2 separate regions of the Homo sapiens genome follow, and region 2 is linked to region 1. A link means that fine-mapping ties the variant in region 1 to the expression of a gene that starts in the linked region. Tissue or cell type: tibial nerve. Region 1 holds a variant in brackets; the other region holds the start of a gene. All regions are shown on one strand. Distances are between the middles of the regions. Region 1 overlaps BANK1 (B cell scaffold protein with ankyrin repeats 1). Region 2 holds the start of BANK1 (B cell scaffold protein with ankyrin repeats 1).

What was found. PIP is the estimated chance that this variant, and not a neighbour inherited with it, causes the effect. A credible set is the group of variants that fine-mapping cannot tell apart.
Region 2: BANK1 starts here. The variant in region 1 is the best candidate, but not a certain one, in a credible set for the expression of BANK1 in tibial nerve (GTEx, PIP 0.76).

Annotation. Positions count from the first base shown.
Region 1 is chr4:102,044,346-102,049,736 of GRCh38, reverse strand. All of the region lies in intron 11 of BANK1 (B cell scaffold protein with ankyrin repeats 1), which reads right to left. Among named protein-coding and RNA genes, the nearest start is that of BANK1, 260 kb to the right of the region's middle. The variant G/A (reference allele first, on the strand shown) is at 3,033.
Region 2 is chr4:101,787,832-101,793,222 of GRCh38, reverse strand. BANK1 (B cell scaffold protein with ankyrin repeats 1) reads right to left here and starts at 2,493. Exons shown (of 17, transcript NM_017935.5): 1 at 2,273-2,493. The coding sequence starts at 2,342. RefSeq lists a silencer at 2,217-2,406.

The DNA of each region.
Region 1 (5,391 bases):
GACTGCCTTTCACTGGCACTGGCTGTGACCAATTACGGTTTTAAAGAGACAGTTTAACAACTACCTAACCATCACCTGGTGGTCGTCTGACATTCCTGGGTGGGTGGCCCTCTCCTGCCCTGCTCGTGTCTGCCTAGCTGCCTACACTACCCTTTTGCCCTCTAAGAGTGAGAGCAACAACACACCCTTGATAAGGTTCATTTGACTATATGGCTGAGGAGATCTGTGGATGTAATCTATGATTACAGGGAGGCAGCTTGTTAAGAATGCTTGAACCTCATCAGTTGCCACGTGTCATATCCACGGTAAGATGGGGATGATCTTGATATAGATAGAAAAGGCCCTTCTGTACAGTCCAAGATGTGAACAAACTTGACCCTAGACTATATATGATTTTGTAAAACAAGGAAAATTAGCCAGATATTTCCATCTTTGAATAAGGAGCCCTTAAATTCTTTCAACATTTTTGACTTGATCATGTTCACTTAGAAATCTTCTAATGACTAAGTATATTTTATAGAAACTTTATTATCTGGCAGAGACCAAATAATGCAAGCAATCCAGTCACTGGAAAGCCATCTTCCCTTATTATAGGTTTAATGATTGGAATTGGGGGTATGAATCAGTCCTCTGTGAGCTTCGATAACATAAGCCAGACTTCAAAATCCTGATCAATTCCAAACACACTGGCAAATGCAGTTTTCTGACTAGAAATTTCTAATTTCTAGCACTAGTATTTTCTAATTTCAAATCCAAATTGGGAAAATTGACTTTAAAACTGTTTTGATGGAAAATTTTATCTGTGATCCAAAGTCCTCAGCATTTTTCCTTACATTTTTTCAAAATGTGGAAACTGAGTTGAAGAATCTGTTGAGTTTCCATGGAAATGGTGCCAATTAATTATTTTTTTCTTCCTTAGGAAAATTCCTTGACTTAGCAATAATGTAACTTCCTGGCAATCCCTTGCCAGTCTTAAACTTAGTGCACTTGAAATGCTTATACTTTCAATGGGAAAACAGTTGGCTCTCATCATCCCTTTTCCCTCCAGCATATAGAGGAAGAGTTAAATAATAATTCCTTTTTACCTTCTTTAGAGAACTTGTCTAGTCCCTTTAGAAAATCTTGCCTCTGACAAACATTATATAAAAGGCCCTTTTTATTGTTCTACCAAATAAAGAGAGTATCACTGGTGAAGTATGTACTGCTTTTCCTAGTACACCATGAAATCCCAGGATATTTGAAGAATATTCATTAATTAGGTAATAAGCAGTTTTCATTGCATAGTATGTTACATGGACTGAATGATCATAATATCTGCAACAGTTTAGAGAAATATGGTTGGATGAAATCAACCTTGTTAGCTATTTAGGTACTTAATTCTTTTATTACTAAGTATTCCAAATTATCTTGTTTTCATGCTAACTGCTGATTTCCCTGCACACTATAGTCATCAGGGAGGTTTTTAAAGAAACATTTGATAAGGATTGATGTTTCCTTAGTCCTTACAAATAAAACAATATGCTGTTCCCTTCTGGTACATTACTGATGTTCAGGAATAAAGGAATCTAAAGAAACTGCTCTAAGATGACTAATCAAAAATATCATCAATAAGTTGTATTTAAGTATGTACACAGAAAAAATATTACAGACAAAATATGATTAAAATGTTAGTATCTGAGTCCCTACAGAATTTTTAAAAATCTAGAGGTAATTGACCTTGATTATGCAAATTAGGTAACAAGATATGGACAGATAGTAATCAATACAATATTGCATAATTAGGTCCTCGTTTCCCTTTACCACCCTCTCCTCCCCTTTTTCTGTGGGCAGATGGGTACTAATTGTCTATACATGGTAGAATAATGACAGGGCTCTTCTAAGCTTAACAGATACTAGCAGCCCTTCCTTGCATTGCTCTCTGTGGGACAGCCAGGATAACTGATAAGATCAAACATTCCAAGGATCTCTTCATTACACTTGATACTCGTCATTTCTCTTCATCTCCTGTGGCCTTCTTTGCATTTTCCCTTTAATTCTAACATAATTTAATTAAAAACATGGTAATTGAATAATTTATAAGAAAAACACTTCAGGGATTTTTCTCCCAAAAATCTCCTCTCTTCATTCTTTCCAAAGCTCTGTGAGGTATGTATGGGAGGCCAGGTAGAAATAATCTTATCTACTTTGTTTAATTCTTTCGTAGCTGTTCTGATCCTAATTGTACAATGATCTTACATGTAGCTTTGCATTTATTTCTTGAGAGAGCTAAAGGCACAGTGGGAGGATAATAGTAGACTTAAAAAAGATCTATCTTTCTCCTTAAATATGAAATCACTAAAAATGGAAAACTGTCAAATAAAGAGTTTTTTGCATGTAAATTTACAAGCAGTGTATTAAAGTGTTTCATGAGAGAATAAAAGTTCAGCTTCATCATGTGTTGCATTCAAACACCGTGTATTAACTGGAAGATGATCTAAGTACCACCTTGCTGTTGTGAAAAAATGCCACTTGAAGTGATGGGTGAGGATCACTCATTTAAGAATGCACCCTTGTTTGAAGGATGATTCATAATGTCCTAGGAGCAGGTCCATTGAAGGTCTGTATTTAATAGTTCAGTGGGTGTTAGAATTTGGTGCAATCCATTCCCAGCCATCTTCACAATGGCAAAAAAGGAGCCTGACTGGGAGTGGTTAGTAGTTGCTGTGAAACAATTTCCTGGTTTTATTCCAGTGTCTCTTTCAACAATTTACCGGCACCATTTTCAAGGAAATATTAGTTTGGACTGAAGTTATTTCAAAGATGGGCCTGTATGTACACATTCATTATCATGGGCAGCTAATGTTACCCCCTACCTCTGCCACCTTTAATGTTTTTCATTTTTGAACATTGAATAAGGCCTTATTGTCAGACAAAAAATCATAATACATGATCTGCTACAGTCTTTCTTTTCAGCAGAAGACAAACATTTTAGGGAAAACTGGAGGCAGAAAATATTCTGTCTGTGGAAGATGTTTCTGTGGCTACAGTTTTCA[G/A]CTCTTCTCTGCATAACAAATAATTGTTCAAGAAATGTTAGATCAAGTGCTGAAGGCAAGAGAACAGTTAAAAAGGATGCAGTCTTTGATTGGCATTTAGTGCAAACCATAGAAAACTCATGCTAGCCCCTTTCTTTGGAGGAATCAAATCATTTGCCACTCCTACCAAGTTAGGTTCCAGAGGCTTCCCTTATAGGTCTATGAAAACACAGCCTCTGATGCATCTTAGATAATTTTTCTTACTTGACCTTCCTGGAACCCTCATGATAACATCGACAACACTATCACAAACATTCTGATAAGGTTATTTCATGCCTTTGTTAATTAAAATAATTTTCTTGTATTAATTGTATTATGGCAAAATTATATTGTGTGAGATTAAGAGTAAGATTTATGTCTTTAATCCATCTTGAATTGATTTTTGTATAAGGTATAAGGAAGGGATCCAGTTTCAGCTTTCTACATATGGCTGGCCAGTTTTCCCAGCACCATTTATTAAATAGGGAATCCTTTCCCCATTGCTTGTTTTTCTCAGGTTTCTCAAAGATCAGATAGTTGTAGATATGCGGCGTTATTTCTGAGGGCTCTGTTCTGTTCCATTGATCTATATCTCTGTTTTGGTACCAGTACCATGCTGTTTTGGTTACTGTAGCCTTGTAGTATAGTTTGAAGTCAGGTAGCGTGATGCCTCCAGCTTTGTTCTTTTGGCTTAGGATTGACTTGGCAATGCGGGCTCTTTTTTGGTTCCATATGAACTTTAAAGTAGTTTTTTCCAATTCTGTGAAGAAAGTCATTGGTAGCTTGATGGGGATGGCATTGAATGTATAAATTACCTTGGGCAGTACGGCCATTTTCACGATATTGATTCTTCCTACCCATGAGCATGAAATGTTCTTCCATTTGTTTGTATCCTCTTTTATTTCCTTGAGCAGTGGTTTGTAGTTCTCCTTGAAGAGGTCCTTCACATCCCTTGTAAGTTGGATTCCTAGGTATTTTATTCTCTTTGAAGCAATTGTGAATGGGAGTTCACTCATGATTTGGCTCTCTGTTTGTCTGATGTTGGTGTATAAGAATGCTTGTGATTTTTGTACATTGATTTTGTATCCTGAGACTTTGCTGAAGCTGCTTATCAGCTTAAGGAGATTTTGGGCTGAGACAATGGGGTTTTCTAGATATACAATCATGTCGTCTGCAAACAGGGACAATTTGACTTCCTCTTTTTCCCAATTGAATACCCTTTATTTCCTTCTCCTGCCTCATTGCCTTGGCCAGAACTTCCAACACTATGTTGAATAGGAGTGGTGAGAGAGGGCATCCCTGTCTTGTGCCAGTTTTCAAAGGGAATGCTTCCAGTTTTTGCCCATTCAGTATGATATTGGCTGTGGGTTTGTCATAGATACGCTCTTATTATTTTGAGATATGTCCCATCAATACCTAATTTACTGAGATTTTTTAGCATGAAGCGTTGTTGAATTTTGTCAAAGGCTTTTTCTGCAAATATTGAGATAATCAAGATGGATTAAAGGCTTAAACGTTAGACCTAAAACCATAAAAACCCTAGAAGAAAACCTAGGCATTACCATTCAGGACATAGGCATGGGCAAGGACTTCATGTATAAAACACCAAAGCAATGGCAACAAAAGCCAAAATTGACAAATGGGATCTAATTAAACTAAAGAGCTTCTGCACAGCAAAAGAAACTACCATCAGAGTGAACAGGCAACCTACAAAATGGGAGAAAATTTTCGCAACCTACTCATCTGACAAAGGGCTAATATCCAGAATCTACAATGAACTCAAACAAATTTACAAGAAAAAAACAAACAACCCCATCAAAAAGTGGGCGAAGGACATGAACAGACACTTCTCAAAAGAAGACATTTATGCAGCCAAAAAACACATGAAAAAATGCTCACCATCACTGGCCATCAGAGAAATGCAAATCAAAACCACAATGAGATACCATCTCACACCAGTTAGAATGGCAATCATTAAAAAGTCAGGAAACAACAGGTGCTGGAGAGGATGTGGAGAAATAGGAACACTTTTACACTGTTGGTGGGACTGTAAACTAGTTCAACCATTGTGGAAGTCAGTGTGGCGATTCCTCAGGGATCTAGAACTGGAAATACCATTTGACCCAGCCATCCCATTACTGGGTATATACCCAAAGGACTATAAATCATGCTGCTATAAAGACACATGCACACGTATGTTTATTGCGGCATTATTCACAATAGCAAAGACTTGGAACCAACCCAAATGTCCAACAATGATAGACTGGATTAAGAAAATGTGGCACATACACACAGTGGAATACTATGCAGCCATAAAAAATGATGAGTTCATATCCTCTGT
Region 2 (5,391 bases), 260 kb after region 1:
GACAAACCATGTTCCTTACAAGTATAAGCATCCAGCGTAAGGTGAAACAGTCTAAATGCTAATTCCACCCTTTCATGCTTTCTGTTCTTAAGCAAATCATTTATTAAAGTTTCATCAGATGCATCCAATAATATCAATAAAAATTTAAAAAAAACTATGGTGTGGAGAAAAATCTGTGATTTAATAAATAATCACTCCCTAATTAAAACAGCAGTTAAAATTAAATTTTTAAAATCATTAGTTTTGGAATACAACAGGAAGAATCTCTCTTTTGGACATTGATAGTAATATATAGTTAAATACAAACCAGAAAATACATTCTAACTAGAACTTTCACCCATTGTGCATCATTTTTACCTTGTTTTAGAGAACTGGGTATTCTATTTTTCTTGCTTCCATTAAAGAACAAGTCGATACTCAACAGTTAATAAATCTCTGATGGCAGTATACACTAATGTTGTCTAGCAGTACATTCTATCTCCTGCTAGAAATATACCTTCCTGGGCATGAAACTGTGTTTACCATTTTACATTCTTATTACTACTACATGACTCTTGGCAGGGAATAAAAGTTTGTTAAGTTAATGAATGGGTGACCTTCAAATAATTACTAGTTATGAAACCATGAGCAACTCACACTCTGGATCTCAGTGCTCTCTTCTCTAAATGAGGCAGTTGGACCAATTGACCCCCAATGTGCCATATTAAGATAGTTGTTGGAGAGAGAGGGAGCTCTTCATTAAAAAAAAAAAAACACACACACACACACACACACACACACAAACCACTGGATTTATAAAAGCTAGAAGATTACTCATATCAAGAATATGGGCATGGGATAATGTCAAAAGACAATTCGTTTTTAGAAAAGTTTCATTATGTTGGCCAGAAAAGGAAGTAACTGAAGCAAGTGATAAATACTGCATGGAGAAGGACCCAAGGAGTTGGGAGGGGCGGGGCGGGGGGGGAGCGGAATGCATGGGAGGAACAAGAATAATTGGAATGCTATAAATATTGATTCACATTACTCTTGCATTATTCACAATAGCAAGTGCCTCAAAGTATTGCTTAGTATCAAGTGAAATAAAAGGCATTTTCTGCCTAAACTGTTTAATCTAGAAGTTTGAAACAAACTGTACCCCATTCTCTAACAAAATTGTTAAACTGAAATTACAAAAGAGGTAACCTGCTCAAAGTTTGAAAGACATGGTTGGTTTATTTATAGATGCTAGCAAAGTCTGCTCTGCTGAAGACCATCAGAGCCACAGTTTTCAAGAATGTCAATATGCAATAGTTAAAATATTAATAATATTAAGTTATGGGCTCTAAGTCCTTTCTTGTCACTTTTCATTGACACAAATATACTTCTTATTTAACTGAAAGCAATCCCTAAAGCTTATTTATGTAAAAATGCACTAGCCAACAGAAATAGCTACAACCAAAATTACATTACCTAAAAAATTCTAGAAAGGTATGAGAAATTTATTTCTATTCAGCAAATTAAGAAACTTTCACTCAGAATATACTTTCTTGTTGCATTTCTCACCACGAACACTCCAGTAATATTAATACCTAAGTGAAGTTTTTTAATTTAAAAAACATTTTTATATCACTGAGTAATTTGCAAATGCATTTGAAATGCTTCAAAAAGAACTAAATAAAACTGCCTTAACGTCCATTTGAAAATATAAATCTACTTCTGCATTCAACCAAGTTGACCGTTTTCCTTTGACCAAGTTAGTAAAGCCAGTGGAGTAGGGAGGTGGTGTTGGTAGAGTTTCTCTGCAAAGCCACCTGCCAAGAAGCAGGGCTACCAATTCACCAGGCTGGGATTTGTCAGGCCGGGCAGGTAAATGCGTGACGCTACACATGAGCGGTTTTTCTGTGCTTACCGACTGTTGAAAATAATTACGTATAATTTTAAACGCGCATTGCTTTAAAACAGGTTGCAAAGTGATTTTAGAAACTACAGGACCCTGACCCGGGTGCTGGGGAAAGTTCCAGCTCCTCAGAAGTTGCAGACACTGAGGGTAGCCCGCTGGCCAGAACTCCCAGCGCGCTCCCTCCTCGTGGCGTCCAGATGCCCCTCAGAGAAGTCAGGGACAGAAGAACCCTCTGGGCTGCCTGGCGGCAGGATAAAAAGGAGAAGCCCTGTCTCAGGGACGCCCTGGCCTCAGTGCCCGAGTGCAGTTGTCTAACGATGGCCCGTGGTCTCCGCAGAGCCCCGTAGCCCGGCCTCGGCGTCAAGCCCCTCCGAATGCGCGACTACCCACCTGGGGGCGCTGGGCCGCAGGGGGCGGGGTCCGGGCTCCCAAGCCCCTTGCCTGGCGCTGCTGGCAGCATTGTGGCGGTTGAAGCCGAGGGGCCTGCGCACTGCTGCCCGCCGAGCGCTACCTGGACTCTCCCGGCCAGAGACTCCCCGCGATTTTCTCTTCCTTTGGCCCTCGGCTCTCCCCAGCCCGCTTGCCACCCGCGGAGGCTGCGGCCAGGTCTCAGGAAACGCAGCCCCGGGGCTCATGCCCGCAAGGCCAGGGCTCCGCTCTGCTGGGCGCCCAGAGGAAGTGAAACTGCTCAGGGGCCTGCTCTTACATCCCTTCTCAAAAGGCCGCTTTGGTTTCTTATAACACTTCTGCGCCTGTTTCCTTCCTCACCTTTTCATCCTAGGATATATTTAGACCGCTGTTATTGTAGCTCTCCTTGTCCCTTTCTAGGTCTTCCATACTGCCATACTGCCCCCACTTCCAGGCAGACGTAGGGAAACCAGAAGTGAACATTTGCTGGAAAGAAAGAATAATTAGATAGATAGATGAGTAGGTACACAGATGATAGATACATACATATAGAAATGAAGATACAGATAATACTGTAACTTTTAAAATATTTCATTTTACACAGACTTTCTAGGCTAGGTTCATAAATTGAAAAGTGATTTAAAATTCCATATAAAATGTATTTCTTACTCCTGCTCCAACTCAAAAATAGACCCAGTAAAAAATTATTTATGGCTCTAAATACCCTCTCCAAACAAGAGTTTGTTTGCTTGTTTTTAAGATGGAGATATATCAAAGGAGTTGTCCCAGAACCTTAAAGTGAATGTCTCTCTCTCAAGCATGTCTAAACTAGTCATTTGCCTTTTGAAGTTGAATATATTTTTTGAATATCAATTTGGTAATAATACATAGTTTAAATGTTCCTCTCCTCTTCCTATAAAAGGAAGGCTTTCTTTGAAACTTTCTCTCGGATGAAGTGCTTTTTAGTAATAATATAAATATCAAGTATCAAAAAAAGTTAATTTTTTCACATAAATGAACTTATTAGAACTTTATAACATAATGTAGAAAACTTGGAGAAGTATGCGAAATGTCCAAAAAACTTGAAAACAATTATAGATTGTATTGTATTTATCTGGTTTCCAGTAGTTTCTTTAACATCATTATTAATTTTATGTTGATTTTCTGAACTTTATATAATGGAACAAAAGATTTCATCTAACTTATGAAATATTATATTGAAAAAAATGGTTGTCTTCTATATATGCCTGTTAACAGAGAGACTTCAGTGTAATAGGCAAAAACAAATTTGGATTGCAGGGTTTGGGTGTTGTTCAGTGTTTCAGAAACTCAATTCTTAGGAAAGTATGTCTTAAACCCATTGGAGAAAAGAATATTCTAACTGATGCATCTGCTGGTATACGTATTCCTGACAAGAGCTACTTTAGCCAACATGAACACTCCAGATGATGCTCCCCAATTAAGTATCCAGATCTTCAAAGGCACCCATTTATGCACACGAAAACTTGTTAATAAAGACAGTGTTCAGATAGGAACTTGTATCTGTCACATATACAGGACAGCCTTCTTGTATGAAGAGCCCTGGATTGGAAGTCAGAAGGTTGCAGCTGCCATCCTGACTCTGCTCCACAATATCTGGGTGTTTGGAGCAATTCTTAATATTTCTGAGCCTTGCGTATCTCATCTAATTTATTCATTATTAATGAATAAATTAAAATTACTGTATTCGAGTTTCTGCCAGATATAAAATGTTATAACACTGTCTCCTAATAAAACTATAGAAAATAAGATTTATAATATGAAAATTAAGTATATTTTCAGAAGCTCATTTCCACTACTTATGTCAAATGATGCTAGTAAATAGAAAAAAGAAAGTAAAAACTGCTGAAAATTGTGGGCTGTTTTTTTTTTAAAAAAAATAAGATTATGTGTTAGAAAATCTTTAAAATCTCCCATTAAAATTATTCTAGCTTCACTTTTCTTTTGAATAAGAAAATAGCCATTGACTACCCCATTGACTGACTTATTTATTCTTTTGTTTTACTGTTTGCAGTCAACAACTACTCTTTTTTTAAGTATTCTATATCCTATGTTCTATGTAAGAGTTTCACAATATTCATGTCATTTGGTTCTCAAAACAAGGAAGGTTTAACCATATTTTACAAATGAAGAATCTGGGCGTTGAAAACTGTAAGTGGCAGAGCTGGAATTCAATCCTAGATCTGATTTCATAGCCTGCCCTCTTAATTATAACTGCCCCCCTCCCCACCGCTTCCTTTTAAGGTCACATAAGGCCCTTGCTAAAGATTACATGAACATAATAGGATAGGTTATACATATATGTGTTGAAAACGTTTTTTGTTTCCCTATCCACTTTTCCACAGAACTATAAGCCCATACAATTAAATACTAATATCCTTAAAAATAGGTATGAACTGTACTTATAATTTATTACAATTTTGGTGCTATTTGGTTGAGGATATATAGATGTTCACACACGCGCACACACACACATACACGTGATAACTTAAGTCTACATGTTTTCATACTTTGCTGATGCATTTATAAAAATATATTTTAAAAGATTTTTTACTCATTTTGGTCTTGTTTCTGTGTCAAGTACGTCTTTAATCACAGTTGACTTTATTTTTCCCCTGCTTTCTCCCTTAAGGAGATGATACCATCTGGAATGTTGGGTTATCTCTTGGTTCATACTTGTTCTCAGGAAAGAGGCACTTAGCAATTCTCACACCGAGAGGCTTTTTCAGGCAAAATACCACCAGCAGTGTGTAATCGCAGGTTTCTGATTTTACCTCTGTTACAGAATGACAAGAAAATGCTAGTCACAGTAGGTTTCTCATTTCTCAATATATCAAACTCTTGGATCCATTGACTTCTTCCCTTGCATTATTTTTTTTAGCGGCATATTGACAGCCTCAATATTATTACCCCACTCTGTGAAGATTATAAAAGCCTCACACTGGCCCTGTGTTCCAATAAATGGACAGCTAAAGCTGTTTGGTGTTGCCCTGCAGTTGCCATGGCTGATTTCTTGTGTCCTTTGCAGACCAGATGCTGTTGTGCATGCTAATGGCTTTATT